Regions from separate parts of the Homo sapiens genome. Here regions 1 and 2 are each linked to region 3. Evidence: fine-mapped expression QTL. A gene starts in region 3. Each other region holds a variant in brackets. All regions are shown on one strand. Distances are from middle to middle. Region 1 overlaps RSRC1 (arginine and serine rich coiled-coil 1). Region 2 overlaps GFM1 (G elongation factor mitochondrial 1). Region 3 holds the start of RSRC1 (arginine and serine rich coiled-coil 1).

What was found. PIP is the estimated chance that this variant, and not a neighbour inherited with it, causes the effect. A credible set is the group of variants that fine-mapping cannot tell apart.
Region 1: its variant is the best candidate, but not a certain one, in a credible set for the expression of RSRC1 in whole blood (INTERVAL, PIP 0.60).
Region 2: its variant is the best candidate, but not a certain one, in a credible set for the expression of RSRC1 in whole blood (INTERVAL, PIP 0.58).

What each region holds. Positions count from the first base shown.
Region 1 is chr3:158,132,953-158,137,199 of GRCh38, reverse strand. The region is part of intron 3 of RSRC1 (arginine and serine rich coiled-coil 1); the gene reads right to left. Among named protein-coding and RNA genes, the nearest start is that of RSRC1, 25 kb to the right of the region's middle. The variant C/T (reference allele first, on the strand shown) is at 2,067.
Region 2 is chr3:158,691,566-158,695,812 of GRCh38, reverse strand. GFM1 (G elongation factor mitochondrial 1) reads right to left here. Exons shown (of 18, transcript NM_024996.7): 18 at 232-4,247. Among named protein-coding and RNA genes, the nearest start is that of LXN, 21 kb to the right of the region's middle. The variant C/T (reference allele first, on the strand shown) is at 1,856.
Region 3 is chr3:158,108,122-158,112,368 of GRCh38, reverse strand. RSRC1 (arginine and serine rich coiled-coil 1) reads right to left here and starts at 2,280. Exons shown (of 10, transcript NM_001271838.2): 1 at 2,146-2,280. RefSeq lists enhancers at 1,707-1,756, 1,618-2,117, 1,967-2,316, 2,118-2,619.

The DNA.
Region 1 (4,247 bases), 25 kb before region 3:
TTTAAATGAGCTTATTAATTCAATAGGTTTAATAATCAAAAATCCATCTGTTTTGCATGTCAGTGTAAAAGTGCTGCTCATTCCAGTTGAGGAAATAATGAAAATAAATAGTGACCTGAATAAAAATTAACTGCATACATGGTTAGACTCATGGTCTGGGCTTCTTTATTTTGGATAAATTTTATTAAAATGGACTACCTCAGGTAAATGAAAGAACGATAGAAACACACATTTATTTAACAGTGTCCTTACAAGAACAGAGCAGATTTTTAGAACTTGAATTGATAACCTCTTGTACTTATATGTGTGACCCATCTTACACTCAACTTATTATCCTCAAGCAAACGGCTCACTTTCAGACTATCTGTCCAAGAACAATGTTGCCCAGTTTTGCTCGTCCACAATTTTCTCGTTTTCTCTATTGCTCCTGCATGATCTCCACACCCATTGAAAAACTGGAGGGGGAAAGGAAAAAAAAGAAAAAACACTCTGCAAAAAGAAAACCATAAAGTCACCACACACTGAACAGAACCATTTCTGCCACCATTACTTGCTTACCTTATCTTCCCTAGTCTTAGCTCCCTCACCTAAAAGAAATAGTATAAAATAACCTTTTAGCCCTAAAAATTCTGTACCTCTATAAGACCTCACAGCCACCTCTGAAAGCTATTAATCAGATAAACAAAAACTCACATACAAAAAGCATTTTCATTACAAATATACAACAGAATAAGAATTTAGCTCAGTGCAAACTAGAGCTCTGTAGGGGAGCAAGTAGAAGTTTACCAAGCAAGCAATAGCATCAATGTAATTGTTCAGTTCCTTTTAGCGGATTTAATTATAACTATTTTAGAGCATGGTAACATGGCAAAATAATAGGTACATCTAATTAGTTTTTTAAAAAACTTAAAAATGATATTTTAAAATAATTTAAATAATATACATTATGAAACTTATTTTCATGTAATTTCGAATCAAATTAGAACTAGAATGAGCATAATACTTTATACATGAAGATACTGAGACTCAGGCTGATTCAGAGCTCTTTCCATGCTATCTCTTGTCTGTAATGCCACCTTCTATAATTTCAAATTAGTTTCTACATGGTAGAAATGCAAATTAAGTAAGGAGTGATTATGATCAAGCTTACAGCTCAATCTATACGTTGAAAATGAGTAAGACTGCATGCATATCCATGTTTCCTTGACAAAGTGGGCTCTGCTTTACCATGCTTGCTAAAATTCTGCCTAAGGAAATCCCAGCCTAAGGAAATGTCTTTAAGTAAAGACCTAAAAGATTAATTACAGATCATGGGTGGGAGAAAAGTACATTTTGAGCAGAGGCAACCACCACATGTTCAAGGGTCCTTAGACAGGAAAAGAAAACTGTTTAAACACTACAAGTATGACTAGCATTGGAAAGATGTGATTGAAAAGGCAGGAAGGAGTCAGATCACAAAGGGACTTAAAGCCTTGTCAACATTTTGGGTTTTATTCTAAACCACTGAAATAAAGGAGGTCCTATCAGATTTGCATTTTGCATTGCATTTTGGCTACCATGTGAAGAAAAAAATTGGAGGGAAAACTCCAGAAAAAAAAAACATTAAAAATTTACACTATAGGCCGGGCGCAGTGGCTCATGCCTATAATCCCAGCACTTTGGGAGGCCTAGGCGTGTAGATCACTTGAGGTCAGGAGTTTGAGACCAGCCTGGCCAACATGGTAAAACCCTGTCTCTACTAAAAATTCAAAAAAAAAAAAAAAATAGCTGGGTGTGGTGGTGCATGCCTGTAATCCCAGCTACTCGGGAGGCTGAGGCAGGAGAATCACTTGAACCCAGGAGATGAAGGTTGTAGTGAGCCGAGGTTGCGCCACTGCACTCTAGCCTAGGTGACAGAGCGAGATTCTGTCTCAAAAAAAAAAAAAAATTACACTATAATTTGGAAATGACTACTTCTCTTCTGCTAATATCCAAAACACATTCTGAGCCTCACAAAACAACATGTGGCAGTAAACAGCACAGTTAAGAACTTACACTAAGTTCAAATATTATGTTATTAGCTGGTA[C/T]GGTATTTTGGTTCATCAAATATTGAGATGATAAGCCAAAAATAACAACTTTTATGTAATTAAATTAGTTTTAAGGAATTTAGGGGTATTATGCACATTTACCAGAATCTTTATAAAAAGCTAGAAAAAAATTATCAATAAATTAATCACCACTGATGTAAGTCACCTGGGTAAATATTTCACAGTGCCTCATTTCAAATGTTTTACACACTTAACAAAAATTGTGCTATAGTGTTAAGTACTTAAGATGACAAGACAGTACATAAAAATCAAATATTATGGTTACAATTAACGTGACAACTCCACATCTCTTTGTCTCTCATAGACTATATAATTAAAAGTTAATTGAATACCTTTCCAAAGAACCTCTTTTTCTGCCAGTGTTAGATATAGAACTCTTAGAGTGAAAGCAAAAGAAAGTTCTTCCTAGTTACACATTGCCAAGGACAAAAGTCAGACTAATCAAAAGATTCCCACCAAGAACTCCGTGACATCAACTAACATTTCACTGATAATTCCGCAAAAGAATATTCAGTATATAACAGCCTTGATCTTTGTGAAATGGCTCATCTGTCAGGCATCTTTCATTTGCTATTCAAAATGACTAATCTAAAGGATGCTGCAAACTATGCAATGCAGATTTTCACTTCAAGTTAACAATGCAATTTTCTAAGTCAAAACCAACTGATAGTAAAATACTATTTACACAACAAGTTTAATCTCTGAATACTATTATTCTATAAAAGCATGTTGTAAAGGTAGATGATCTTTGAAATAATCTAAAAGAAAAAAATTTTTAATTTACTAGTTAGGATGCTTATAAATACACGGTATAATAATTAGCTAGGAAAAAATGAAGCTAAAACTACTGTAAAGAATAAATAATCATTAAAGAGTCTTCAGTCATAGGTTAAAATATTCTTCTCACACAAATATTTACATAATTTCATCCCTACCATCCTAGTAAAGTATTATGCTCTAATAAGAACTATCCTAATCTTCACTCAGCAATATTTTCAGGCTGATATTATTATTCTCATTTCCTTGAATAATATCCATACTCCAGGGCCATTTTCTTTCTCATATTCAATATCATGCATGCTTGTATCAAGGTTCCTTTCTTCATATCCTGTCACAGTATCAATCACTGCCTCCTGTCCACTCAATCCACTTTTGATTTATCAGCCGCCGTCTTTCTGGACTCCATAACTCGACCCAAACCATTTTAACAAGACATTGACAAATAGCACCCAGAATCACTTCAACCTGTTCCACTTAGTAAACTAAGAAACAGTAACTGTGACATCTCTGCATAAGTATTCCATTCTATTCCCCAGACTGATGTATATTAATGAGAAGATGGTATTTGAAATGCTTCTTCCACATCAGCATCTAATATGATCAAATTAGGAAATGGGATGATTTATTAAATTTTGTAGAGCTGAAATATTTCTTTATATCGCCATATGTGTGGTTTCAGAAAGTGAGCTGTTGCTTTCAATTTTTCTACTGAAGATATGCCTGCATTTCACAGACGAATTATTGTCTTTAAAAAGATTGCAAGAAGGCAAAATGTTATTAAGCAAATGCTCAGTAAAACAAACTAAATTGGTTTTAAAATTCCTAATTTAATGTAAATCTTGGTTGTTTCACTGAAATTCAGTTTGTGATCTTATTTAGTCATATTTGCATCGTACTGTCTTGCTGTAGGACAGTTTTAAATTTATAGCATTACCAAGCAGCTTCACTTCTTGACTTTTAAGATATGTCCTCAATAAAATAAATAATTGCTCTCTAAGCACATATTTTGTTCTCATTTTCAGATACAAGACAAAATAAAGATCAATAGGTTAATAAAAGAATAAAATAAAAATAGAAAATCAACTGGATCATTTCTATAATTTTCATAATTAGATATTAAAATGTTTTCATTAAAGTGATCCCCAATTTAAAATTCAATAACTGTTTCATGCATAGTTTAAACTTTAAACAATAAATTAGTTTTTCATATTACATTTGGATATGAAAGGGACATTCAATACATTCACAATAAAAATAAAATGAGTTAGAATAAATGTAACATTCATATTTTCCTTAAAGAAATTCTCTTCTTACTTCATCTTCTAGTTTCCAGATATCCGTTTATTCCAGAAGTCGAACTCTACACTCATCTCAAAACTA
Region 2 (4,247 bases), 580 kb before region 3:
TGTTTGTTTGATCTTCACTGGGCAGCTATCTTGACTTTGGAAGGAAATGGTTATCTATCCCAGGATGTCCCACACCAGCTGATTATGTTGCCCAGGCTGGTCTCAAACTCCTAGGCTAAAGGGATCCTCCCACCTCGGCCTCCCAAAGTGTTGGAATTACAGGCATGAGCCACTAAAGGCATTTTTCATTACTGAGATTAGGCTCACAAACACATCCATAATCCAACCAGGTAATGTTTCTAAGGTAACCTTTTAGCAGATTTATTACAGTACAATAGATTATGAGGGGGAATTCTATACATACAAATAATATACAAACACAATTACCTAATTTATTAATTTACAAAACCCAAAAAGTTAAACCAACTAAAAATTTATCAGTATCACCATCAGAACATCTTTTCTTTTTTTTCTTTTTTTTTTGAGACAGAGTCTCACTCTGTTGCCTAGGCTGGAGTGCTGGAGTGCTGGAGTGCAGTGGTGCCATCTCAGCTCACTATAGCCTCCGCCTTCCGGGTTCAAGCGACCCTCCTGCCTCAGCCTCCTGAGCAGCTGGGGCTACAGGCGTGAGCCACCCCGCCCGGACGATTTTTGTATTTATAGTAGAGACGGGGTTTCACCGTGTTGGCCAGGGTGGTCTCGAACTCCTGACCTCAGGTTATCCACCCACCTTGGCCTCCCAAAGTGCTGGAATTACAGGCGTGAGCCACCACATCCGGCCTCAGAATATCTTTTCTAGCACAAACTCTAAAATTGTTAACTTAATTTTACCAACATTGGTTTCACTAGCTAATAAAACAGAAAAATCACTTGGCATAAAATGAAAAACTATTCCCTATGTCCTCTTTTCATTAACAGTCTAAATTATTCTGAATCACTCTTAGCTAATTACAATTACATACAGCTTGACATTCATTTTCCTAATACCTTTAGAACTTTCTTAAGACATATAAAATAATACCAGGGATTTTGTCTACATTCCATTTTATTTTATTCATACTTTCATTTTCTTCCTACCTGAATTACGAATTTTTAGAAGTTGAACAAGTTCTTTTGAAAGTCAGTTGGAAGCTTATATAAATAGGAACACTTTTTTTTTTAAGGTAAAGTTATCAAGCCAGGCATGGTGGTGTGTGCCTCTTGTCCCAGCTACTCCAGAGGCTGAGGCCAGAGGACTGCTTGAGCTCATGAATTTGTGAGCAGCCTGGGAAACACAGCGAGACCCCATCTCTTTAAGTTCAGGGGTTGATGTGCAGGCTTGTTACATAGCTAAACTTGTGTCCTGGGGGTTTGTTGTACAGATTATTTCATCATCAAGGTATTAAGCCTAGTACCCATTAGTTATTTTTCCTGATCCTCTCCCTCCACCCACCCTCCATCCTCCAATAGGCCCCAGTGTGTGTTGTTCCCCTCTGTGTGTCCATGTGTTCTCATTATTTAGCTCCCACTTATAAGTGAGAACATGCAGTATTTGGTTTTCTTTTCCTATGTTAGTTTGATGAGGATAATGGCTTCCAGCTCCATCTATGTCCCTGCAAAGGACTTGATCTCATTCTTTTTTTATGGCTGCATAGTATTCCACAATGTGTATGTACCACATTTTCTTTATCCAGTCTATCAGTGATAGGCATTTAGGTTGATTCCATATCTTTGCCATTATGAACAGTTCTGCAATGAATGTGTGCATGCATGTGTCTTTATAATAGAATGATTTACGTTCCTTTGGGTATATAGTAATGGTATTGCTGAGTCAGATGGTTTTTGTCTTAGAAGACCCCATCTCTTAAAAAAAAAAACAGTTGTTAAACAAAAAAACCAAACTCTAATATCACACAAAAGAATACAATATGACACT[C/T]CTGAATTTCACAGATTTTTCATTTCATGTCTTGGGCTTAAGCGCAGTGCAGGCAATATTTCAGCGGTCTTTAACTTTGTCTGCATATTAGAATCACCCAAAAAAGTTTTTATCTTGATCCAGCCAAATAATCTAAATATCTGGGTGTAGGCCTAGGTATTTCTTTTTAAGGCTCCCCCAGTGATTTTTAAAGTACAGTGAGGGTTGGGAATCAGTACAATACTACCTAGTGCTGCTACTGTTGTCCAATACAAGGATGTAATATTTGAATTAGCCAACAATTATCCTTCTTGATAGTAGTATAAACAACCCTCACCTATGAATATTCTCATTAATTTTTTTCCATGCTACAGACTTTGGTTGGTATGTGATCTTTGCCAACTATAACTAATGACTTAGAAAGAGATGTGGGTTCTAGTCCTGATCTGTCCATTTGTGAACCTATTCTAATTACTCCCACCAGCTAGGCCTGAATCATTACCTATGAAATGCTGGTGTTGGATTAAATATCTAGGACCTTTTCTAACACTGTAACATTATAACCAGGATGTTTTACAAATTAAAAATAAGTAAGTTTTTTACTTATTTATCCAGTTTAGTTCCAGTAGTTGTGACTATTCTCAATAGCCATAGGAATCATGCTAAATTCCATGAAGGTACACAGAATGTATTTCCTCATTAGGAACAATATTCAAAGTTATTGTGAATGTCACAAGATGCTGAGGAAATGCCAAAGCAACCACATTTTTTCAGACCTGATGCTACTGTAGCAACAGACATTCATGGGGGAAATGCACTTGGTGAATAATTGTAATTAAAGTATCAATTAAAAAACTTAGGTTTTGTGGTCTCATTAAAGTTATTTACCTTATCTGTGCTTCTTCTATTACAAAATGGACATAATAATAGTACTTACTCTCGGGGTTGTGAGAATGAAATTATACAATGCATTTAAAGTATTTAGCAGCCAGGCATGGTGGTTCATGCCCATAATCCCAGCACTTTGGGAGGCTGGGGCAGGCAGAGAGCTTGAGCCCAGGAGTTTGAGACCAGCCTGGGCAATATGGCAAAACCCTATCTCTTCAAAAAATGCAAAAAATTAGCAGGGAGTGGTGGCGCACACCTGTAGTCCCACCTACTTAGGCAGCTGAGATGGGATAATTGCTTGAACCCAGGAAGCAGAGGTTGTAGTGAGCAGAGATAGTCCCTCTGCATTCCAGCCTGGGGGATAGAGTGAGACCCTACCACAAAAAAATAAAAATTAAAAAAAAAAAAGTATTTAGCAAATGCCTTGAAAACATGTGCTCAATACTTTTTAAAGATCTTTTTCCCCTAGAAACCTTAAAGTATAAAGCCACGTCTATAAGTCAAGAAAAGCAAAGGAATTTAAAATCAATTATTTTATTTCTACCATCAGGTAATGAAAAGGACTAGGATCCATCTATACCATCAGATGATTTTTGGATGAAGCAATTCTGAACCGGGTAATAGAACTGCTTGGGAAAGCCCAACTTTTTCTGGAAACAAAAGATTAACATTTGTCCCTTCATAATCTCAGTGAATACAATATACGATAAATTCCAAGGAATTCAAATTTAACTAGCATTCATTAGGTTGATGAAACTAACTCTATAAATTACATTTGATTTAGCTGTACAAAAACATTAAGATGAACACAAACAAGAATAGTATATGCAAGGGTCTACTTTTTACTTCACAATAGACCACAAGGAAGTAATACTTATACTCCTAAAACAGAGGCAGTTACAAATTTGCAGAAACCACAAACTGAAATAAACAGACATATATAAAACAGAGAGAAATTTGGCTAATATTTTAATATCCCAATGAAGAATCTGAAAAACACTCTCTATGAAGAACATACGGAATCCACTCTTCAACAGAAAAGCCTGCCCATTAATGACACTCCAAGAAGTGTCATGATATATGCGATTCACTTTCAAGTCTTCAGCAAACTAAAAATAGAGTTATGAGACTTAAACAGATAATAGACAGTGAAAGCAAATATGACAAAACAAATTATTATATGATAAACAACCCGTTAACAAAGGAAGGTAGATGGAAAGTATGTGGTTATTCTTTGCATTTTTTCAGCTTTTCTCTATGTTGAAAACTCTTATGATACAAAATTTGGAAATGAACATACATTCTAAGCTTAAAAGTATAACTGAAATTAGTCTCTTTTCCCCTTAAATATTAAACATATTTCAGTAATAATTATATTTTATTTGAGGATTTTCAATGAACTATAAAACCAATCAATAGAGTTGAGATAGACATAGAATTACCTTTGAATATAACAGAAGCTCCTGAATATGAACAAGAAGGGCTTCTTTTGAAGAAAGAAGAGCCCGCTTCCTGGGCTCAGAAT
Region 3 (4,247 bases):
CATAATATCATCAGCATGTAATTAAATATACTTGCCAATTCAAGACATGGTAATCAATTTATATTACATAGTCCTAGTAAGGAAGAATTCTTTATACTTAACTCCACCAGTAAGGTGCAATGAATGGAAAGACACATTGATAGTTCTTTCTGATAAGGGCAATGAATGATGAATGGAGCACAGGCTTTTAGAGTCCTACAAGCTGACAATTTTCAATCTATCTGTAGGTGAAAGAGACAACATGGGACAGAGCTCCTATAGCTCTTGGTTTCCTGTTCTCACTCTAGTTCTTCCTGGTTGTAGCCTCGTGGTTGCAAAACTCACCCAACAACTCCCACTACAGAACTGAAGCCATGGCATGTAATGACTACAGGAGGAGATCAATTTACAGAAATATCTTAATGTAAAGTTCACGTGCCTGATTGAAGAGGTAAAGCCAACATGTGGTCATTCAAGAAAAGAGAACTCAAAGGACTACACAAGTAGTTCCTTTGTCCAGTTATTGATAAGGGTACAAGAAGCAGTTATCTCTTTCAGAAAACAGGCAATCAGTTTGAAGAACAAAGATTTCCAAAGGACATGATAGCTTATAATTACTTCTCCACTACTCACTCAGTATATCAAACTATAATTTTCTTGATTCTGGACACATGGCCAGAAAAAGTGAAAACAATGGTTATTTCAATGGGAAATCCACCTCAAAGAAGAAAAGTAAAACTGGGGTGAAAACTAACATATTAAGAAATCCATAAACAAGTACACAACTCTTTATCTCAAAAGAGATAAAGAATTCTGTCAAAACACTTCTCCCATCACAATTAAAAACTTGCAAGCATCTCTCTTTTTAAAAAAGCATGATCAATCATAGGAATTTATCCCCAATGGTTTGAACATGAAAGCAGGAAATACAACTATAGATCTACTATAAACAACCCGCTTTCAGAACTTTTCCAATTCATAACACCCCTCTTTGTGAGACTGGTTGAGTTGGCAAGGCCAATTAACAGAAGGTGCCAGCTGTTTTTGTCGTTTCAGATTCTGACATTTTTAGCCCTCTTATTGAAAAACATAAAGTGTTATATCACTTAGCATGAAATCTTTGCCTGCAAAGAAAGTGAATATTTATAAACTCTAAGACTAGAGAGGCTCTTAAAGGATACCTAGTTTCCCCCAAGGTTGCAACTGTCACACCTGCTCCAAATCTTAAACCTGGGAACTCTGCTTACCTCCTTCACTTAGAACTTTTATAATACATCTAAGTTCAAAGATGACAACTCGAATGCTTTCTTGTGACAACATAAGACATTTGAATTTATTTATCTACTACCTAGTTAGCTGGAACACAATTGGGTTACTGCTAATTCTGAAAGTGTAAAAAAATATTTTTTTGTTTAGGTTTCCAGTGTGCATTTAAAGATACACAACCTCTGAGAGAGAAATTACGTCAAGGTTAACCTAAAATCAAGAGCAGGCAACATGCCTTACGGTGCATTGTAACATCTTGCAAAAGTAAACAGAGCCATATGCTCTTGGTCACATGCCACCAGTACAGAAGTCAAAGGAATATATAGTGTGTTTAAGGCGAGCATATTTATATTTCAAGAGAGGAACATCTATTTCACCCTGCACCACTTCTCTCAGCAAGCCAGTGTGAGCCAGAAAGGGTAGGGCGGAATCAGAAAGAGAGCTGGATCTAAGGCAGGGACAGTGGAGTGGATGGGATAGAGGGCACCAGAATCCAGCCTCCCTCTTGCTCCACCCTACCTAGAGCTAGTGAGGAAGCGCCAGGCTTATATTGCAAGATGAGCCAGGAAACCCAAAAGCAGCTATGAAGAACCAGGAACGTGGGGCGAGGGGAGGAGTCGGCGAACTCTCCGACATGTCCTCAAGACAGAAGGCCAAGCTTGAGGCCTGCGGCCACCCACCCACCCTACAGCCACCAGCCTTGACCCAAGGAGTCCGGAGCCTCCCAGGTGCGGGACGCATGCGCACGGTGACACTGCGCACGCCCCGAGGCCGCAGCCCACCCTCCACAGACACTGAGCCGCAAACTGCGCCAGGCCCCGCGTCGCCTCTCGCCGGATCAGGGCCTCGGAGCTCCGCAGCCACGGCTGCCGCTCCCCAGGCCCTGGTCGTGGGCATCACCTGGGTCCAGACCTTTGGGCTCACACCTCCCGTTGACGTGCAAGCGCCGCAGTCCCTGAGTCGTTTCTTTAGATCAGGGCGCCGCCGGCGTCCACCGAACTTGCTTCAGTTTAAGCTCAGCGCCTTCCTGGTTCTAGCGCCAGGCAGCTTCAGCCGAGATATCGAGTGCATCGATGGACGCTGCCAGGCGCTGGGAATGCCGAGGGAGTAGATTGTAACGCGGCCGATTTTTTGTTTGGCGTTTGTTTTGCGTGCCTGTTTATTTTGATTTTATTGTTACCAAAAGCAATAAAGGTGGGACTGGAGAGTGTTATTGTCTTAGTAGTCGTCGTTATCGTCATGGGTAATCAGTAAACAAATCTGCATCGTAGGAAGTTTTGTTTATGACACCTACCCGAAACAAAATTGGTTATCTCACGCTGGGGGAGGGGGAAACTCGCCCAACGATAATAAATCATGGGAGTGTGTCTGTATAGAGTCGTGTGTGATTAAATTGTAATGATTTATTTGCAAAAATGCATTAAAAGTCGGTGTTTCTTCTGCCCTGAAGGTGAAGGCACTCACAAGTTGAGTGCAAATTAGTTTCTCAGATTAAAGTAACTGGTTAGTAGAGGAATAGGAGAGAGCTGCCTGAGGCGAGGCGGGGAGCGGTTTCTTCTGAAAGAGAACTCAAATTTATAGGTGTGTGGAGTTTTTTTATTTAAACCAATAGAAATTAAAGAGACTCAGCATTTTCTGTAATTCATACTACATTACTTATTTTTCCTTACATGGAAATTTTTTCCTCATTTACTCTTAAGCAAAGCTAAAAAGATAAATAAATTGTTGGCCTGGGTTTTGGTCGACTATGAGAATCAACTCATTCACCACTGCTAGATAACCAAGCTACAGTTTTCCGCAGACATTTGAGATGGTGAAAAATCACCTCCACAATATATTTTTCGTAAATAATGTACCTTAACTAGCCAGTTTTGAGGCACCGTTTTAAAACTTAACTACTACAACACTACGTGTATATTTTAAATAATTCAAGAGCTGGGGAAACCCTTGGGGTCCTGAATTTTATTGGAACCTGTGCATCTGTCCACAGACTGTCAGCTGAGCTTTACCATAAATGCTTTTTTTTTTTTTTAAACAAAAACTGTATTTTGAAATGCCCTGTTTCTGGAAGATATTTGCTGTTTAATGAAACAACATCATTGGAACTTTGTGAGCATTTATTAATGTATGAATTTAAAACCTTGAAATATTTTTTAAAGTAACTTCCCTTAGGCCAGTGGAAATCTGTGGTCAGACACTAAAGATTTCTCATGGCTCCATCTGTTATCAACACTACTATTCCTAAATATGCAATGAGCCAAAAAGCTGAGATCATGGGAAAATTTATTGGTTTGAATTACACAATAGTTGTGTCTGTGACTTCCCTGATTACCTTCAAAGTGGTCATCTTTCCCTCAAGCTCAGTAGATGAAATATGACTTCAAACCTAAAAGTCATGTACTTAAAAAGGCAAACAAGTAGCTGGTGGGTCTCCTGATTCCTTAACCGACTTCTAACAGTGGTTATTTTTGAGTTATTTGTGAATATGTATTTAACACCTCAGTTTGAGAGCACCTTGAGCACCGTATCCTCTTAGCTCTCCCTATTACTGGCCCTTCTGCTAAATAATCTTAAAAACAGATTTTCATAAAGGACTAAAGTTGTATGATTATTTTCCTCTGATAATATCAGAAAGTAGTTACAAAGAGTAACCCAAGACTCAATGTGAAATTGTTTCTAAATTCGTATAACTTTGAAACTTTGTCCCTTTTGTGGTGTAACAAAACAAAAGCAAGTACTGATAACAATGTATTCATACCTAAAAGCTATAGCTGCGGAAAAATTATAGACATTAGCTCTCCTAAAAGTGGCAAAAAATGAAATGTTTTAAAAAGGGAAAACAACGTTTCTAAAAAGCATGATATACATAATCCTTAAACTCACCAAACATGAACATTTTAATGTGAGTATTGTAGTATAACATAAGGTTATATCCAGCTTCTATCTACATCTATTTGAGAAACACTAATATATTAAGTTATAATTGTGTTCTCTTTTTGCAA